Linked DNA regions of Homo sapiens: region 1 is linked to region 2. Evidence: fine-mapped expression QTL. A gene starts in region 2. The other region holds a variant in brackets. All regions are shown on one strand. Distances are between the middles of the regions.

The links. PIP is the estimated chance that this variant, and not a neighbour inherited with it, causes the effect.
Region 1: its variant is the best candidate, but not a certain one, in a credible set for the expression of TFDP2 in whole blood (TOPMed, PIP 0.55).

The regions. Positions count from the first base shown.
Region 1 is chr3:142,081,166-142,083,913 of GRCh38, reverse strand. All of the region lies in intron 3 of TFDP2 (transcription factor Dp-2), which reads left to right. Among named protein-coding and RNA genes, the nearest start is that of TFDP2, 67 kb to the left of the region's middle. The variant G/A (reference allele first, on the strand shown) is at 1,275.
Region 2 is chr3:142,147,976-142,150,723 of GRCh38, reverse strand. TFDP2 (transcription factor Dp-2) reads left to right here and starts at 1,180. Exons shown (of 13, transcript NM_001178139.2): 1 at 1,180-1,541. RefSeq lists silencers at 905-954, 1,065-1,274, 1,335-1,404, 1,635-1,684 and an enhancer at 1,035-1,535.

The DNA.
Region 1 (2,748 bases), 67 kb after region 2:
GGTTTTCTTGTAGTAGTTTCATAGATTGAGGTCTTAGATTTAAATCTTTAGTCCACTTTGATTTGATTTTTGTATATGGTGAGAGATAGGGGTCTAGTTTCATTCTTTTGCATACGGATATCCAGTTTTCCCAGCACTGTTTATTGAAGAAACTGTCTGTTCTCCAGTGTATGTTGTTGGCACCTTTGTGGAAAATGAGTTCACTCTAGGTGTATGGATTTATTTCTGGGTTCTCTATTCTGTTCCATTGGTCTATGTGTCTGTTTTTTTGCCAGTATCATGCCATTTTGTTTACTATAGCTCTGTAGTGTAATTTGAAGTCAGGTAATGTGATTCCTTCAGTTTTGTTCTTTTTGCTCAGGATAGCTTTGGCTATTCTGGGTCTATTGTGGCTCTATATAAATTTTAGGATTGTTTTTTCTATTTCTGTGAAGAATGTCATTGGTATTTTGATAGGATTGCATTGAATCTAAAGATTGCCTTGGGTACTGTGGACATTTTAACAATACTGATTCTTCTAGTCTATGAATATGGAATACCTTTCCATTTTTTGTGTCCTCTTTAATTTCTTTCATCAGTATTTTATAGTTTTTATTGTAGGGATCTTTCATTTCTTTGACTAATTCCTAGGTATTTAATTTCATTTGTATCTACTATAAATGGGATTACTTTTAATTACTTTTTCAGATTGTTCACTGTTGCCATTAGAAAGCTACTGATTTTTGTATGTTGATTTGTGTCCTGCAACTTTACTGAATTTGCTTAGCAATTCTAATAGTTTTTTTGTGGAATCTAGATTTTTCAAAATGTAATATATTATCTGCAAACAGGGATAATTTGACTTCTTCCTTTCTAATTTGAATGGCCCTTTATTTTTATCTCTTGTCTGAATGTTGTAGCTAGGACTTCCAGTACTATACTGAATAACAGTGTTGAAAGTAGGCTTCCTTGTTGTGTTCCAGATCTTATAGGAAAGGCTTTCACTTTTTCCTATCCTGTATTTTACTAGCTGTGGGTCTGTCATGTATGCCTTTTATTATGTTGAGGTACGTTCCTTCTGTACCCAGTTTTTTAGGGATTGTATCATGAAGCGATGTTGAATTTTATCAAATGCTTTTTCAGCATCAGTTGAAATGATTATATTGTTTTTGTCTTTCATTTCATTGAAATGATATATTACATTGATTGACTTGCATTCATTGAGCCATTTTGCATCTCTGGGATACATCCCACTTGGTCATGATCAATGATCTTTTTAATGTGTTGTTGAATAC[G/A]GTTTAGTAGTATTTTGTTGAGGGTTTTTGCATCAGTGTACATCAGGGATATTTGCCTGTAGTTTTCTTTTTTTGATGTTTCTTTGTCTGGTTTTGGCATCTGGGTGATACAAGCCTTGTAGAATGAATTTGGAAGTATTCATCTCTCCTCCATTTCAATGGTCCCCAACCTTTTTGGCCCCAGGGATTGGTTTTGTGGAATACAATTTTTCCATGGACTGGGGTGAGGGGTGGTATGGTTTACAGAATGATTCAAGTGTATTACATTTGTTGTGCACCTTATTTCTAATATTATTACATTGTGATATATAATGAAGTAATTATACAACTCACCATAATGTAGAATCAGTGGGAGCCCTGAGCTTGTTTTCCTGCAACTAGGTGGTCCCATCTTGGGGTGACGGGAGTCAGTGACAGATCATCATCAGGCATGAGATTCTCACAAGGAGCACACAACTTAGATCCCTCACATGCACAGTTCACAACAGGGTTTGCACTCCTGTGAGACTCTAATGTCGTGGCTAATCTGACAGAGGTGGAGGTCAGGTGGTAATGCAAGCAGTGGGGAGCATCTGTAAATACAGATGAAGCTGCTTTCACTCGCCCGCCACTCACCTCCTGCAGTGCATCCTGGTTTCTAACAGGCCACGGACCAGTACCAGTCTGTGGCCCAGGGGTTTGGGACCCCTGCTGTACTTTTTGGAATAGTTTGAGTAAGATGGATATCAGTTCTTCTTTAAATATTTGGTAAGATTTAGCAGTGAAGTTGTCAGGTGCTGGGCTTTTCTTTACTGAAAGCCTTTTTATTACTGCTTCAATCTTGTTACTTGTTATTGGTCTGTTCAGGTTTTGGATTACTTTATGGTTCAGTGTTGGTAGGTTGTATGTGTCTGGGAATTTATCCATTTCTTCTAGGTTTTCCAATTTATTGGCATATAGTAGCCATGTTGCTCCTAGTAGCCACTAATGAATTTCCGTGGTATCAATTTTAATGTCTCCTTTTTTGTCTCTGATTTTATTTATTTGGGTCTTCTCTCTTTTTTTCTTAGTCTGACTAAAGGTTTGTCAATATTATCTTTTCAGAAAACCAACTTTTTGTTTCATTGATCTTTTGCATTGTTTCCTGTGTTTCAATTTGTTTTATTTCTGCTCTGATCCTTATTCTTTCTTTTCTTCTACAAATTTTAGGTTTGGTTTGCTCTTGCTTTTCTAGCTCTTTAAGATGCATCATTAGGTTATCTATTTGAAGTTTTTTCACTTTTTTGATGTATAAGCACTTATACCATCAACTTCCCTCTTAGTGCTTCTTTCACTATATCCCATAGGTTTTGGTGTGTTGTGTTTCTTTTATCATTTGTTTCAAGTACATTTTAAATTTCTTTCTAATTTCTTTTTTGACCCTCTGGTCAACTGGTAGCATATTGTTCAGTTTCCATATCTTTGTACAGTTTCTAGAATTCCTCTTGTTATTGAT
Region 2 (2,748 bases):
ATGTAATATAGTTTTTGTTTTACGTATTCTTTTGCATATTATCTTTCCCATCCTGCTAGAATGTAAGCTCCATGAAGGCAGGAGTTTTTGTCTCTATTTTGTCCACTGATGTCTCCCCATATCAAGAATAGTGTTTGGGGCCGGGCGTGGTGGCTCACGCCTGTAATCCCACCACTTTGGGAGGCCCAGGCGGGAGGATCTCTTGAGTCCAGGAGTTCCAAACCAGCCTGGGAAACATGGCGAAACAGCCGGGTGTGGTGGCGCGGGCCTGTAGTCCCAGCTACTCGGGAGGCTGTGGTGGTAGGATCACCTGAGACTGGGAAGTCAGGGCTCCAATGAGCCGTGATCCTGCCACCGCACTCCAGCCTCGGTGAGAGCAAGACCCCGTCTCAAAAACAAACAAAGTGGCATATAGAAGATCTATAAGATTTGACTGGAGTAAAATGAGAAAGATCTAATCGTTTTAATGCGCTGTTCACACGGGGTTTTTAACTTCGGCACGAACGAATGAACAAAATCTTTTCATATGGAACCAAGTGTACGGGTATTTGGGGTGTGTGCAGTTTCCGCGGGACAGAATGACCTGTCCTGGTTTGGGTATTAACTTGCCTTGATATTGAAGAACCTCCACATTCCCAGTGGTCTCTAACTCATTGTCTGAATAATTTCAAGGTGTCCCACAGTTGGCCCCACGCATAGCCTCAATCACGATCACTCGCCCCCCTGTCCCTTATTGATGCTCCCCCAGGGCGACCCCGCAAAGGCCTGGGGACCGAATGGAACTGCCCCAGTCCCCCTCCTTCCAAGAGAGCTGGGGTTTTCTGGCTTCGGGGTCAGTTGGAAAAGAGATTCCCACCCAAGTCGCAGGGTGGGAGTAGGGGGGATGAGATAGGAGTGATGAAGGAAGTGTGTCTAAAATTCTAGGCCTCAGGCCCGCAGCTGTCCCTGGAGGCGGCGGGGAAGCGGGGTGGTCGGGTCCTGCGGAGGGCTCCCAGGGAGGCCACAGGGGGAACCAAGGGGCGGTGGCTGAGTGCACGAGTCCCGCCCCTCCATCTGTTGGCCCCCTACTCTCAAAGGGAAGCCTGGGGGCGGGGTTTGTTTACTCCGTGCACGCACTGCCGGCCCGGCCAATCCGTGGGGAGCGGCGCCAGGCGTCGCACATTCTGAGGGCCAATCGGCGCGCACTGTGCTGCTCCGCCGCCAAAGCTCGCGCGGGGGAAGCGGGGCTGTAGCTGGGCAGGGAGAGGGCGGACGAAATCGGTAGCGATCTCGGCTGCGGCGCTGCCGCAGCTGCCCGGCCCGCGGGGCGCGCCCTGACCCTTCATCTTTGGGCAGGCTCGAGGGCGCGCGCACGGTTGGCGTTCTGGGGCCTCAAACTCCTGGGCCTTGACCGGGCAGGCCGCGTCTCCCCGGGTGTGAGTCCACCGGGACCCGGCCGCCGCCTAAGCGCGGGCGCCACAGAAGCGGCGGCGCCCGAAGACGCGCTCCTGGCTCGGCCCGACAGCCTCGCTTGGCCGCCAGTTCTTCTGCAGCCGAAGGCGGTAAGGTCTGGGGCGAGGGCGCGGGCCCGCGCGCGGAGGGCCTTTGGACCCGGCCGGGCGCGTTCCTGGGTAGGTTTCCCTCCCTGCGCACAGGGGCCCCCTTGTTCCCCCACGAGTCCCATCTGTTTAGACCTGGGTTCTCCAGGCCTGGCCGGGTAACCCGTGAGTGTCTGGGCCAGAGTCGAAAGCAGAGGAGGGTCACCCTCTTAGTGCATAGAGCAAATCGGGGGAGGTAACGTCCCTGAGTCACGCCTCGTGGAAGAGGGGAAGGGCTGCTTTCTACTTTCTCGTTCTCTTCAAAGAAGGATGGCTTCTAAATCTGGTTTTCCGATTTTTCCCTTCTCCTTTCATGACTCACAGGCCTCTGTGTCCACCAGGTGTTTTGTTTGTTTTTAAAGAGTTTCTAAGCTTTGTGTGCTTGGAAGAACCTCATATGCCCCATAAAGGAACTTTTCTCTGAAGTAGAGGATCGCTTTTTGGGCCCAGACTCCTTTGAGAAAATCTGGAAAGCCAAGGTCTGTCTTCACAAAGAAGTGTAAGGGTTTTCCTAGGATCTCGCTGAGAGACAGTACAACGAAGTGGATGAGCGCCCCAGTCTCTCTTACCAGCCTGTGCTATCTCCCATTGTGTGATCTCGGTTTCTTCATCTGTAAATTAGATGCATCCACCTATTCGGTGTGTTTCGGGGAGTGAATGGACTAATGTATGGAATGCAATCGTAAGAAAATCCTCCACGTATTAAATGCCTTGCATTAGTTAGGCACTTTTATTATTGACTGCCATGGATGCTGGTTTAGAAAAAGACCCTATATTATTTCCCTTTTAGTGTTGAGACAGTGAACGGGCTCATTCCTTTTCCATATTCACTGCTGAAGCTGCCTTTGAGCCCATGAATACTTTTATCTTTTCCTCATTCCATCTCAGAGGGCACAGACTCCCTCTCACTTATTTGCTTTCTTTCAGTAAGGCTCTCTTTTAGCTCAGCCTTCTCCTTCCCCTGTCTCCCCGAGATCTGAGTTTTGTGTCTTTTCATTTGACTTGCACAACCTACTTTTTTTTTTTTCTGGGCCATGTGTTTTCTCTTCATGGCTTGAATTTATCTTCACCTAATAAATAATTTACCTGTTTTTTTTTTCAGCTCGTGAATATATATTCATCTATTTTCTATATGGCATAATCATGTCCCTGTCTCTCTTTAAAAGTAGAT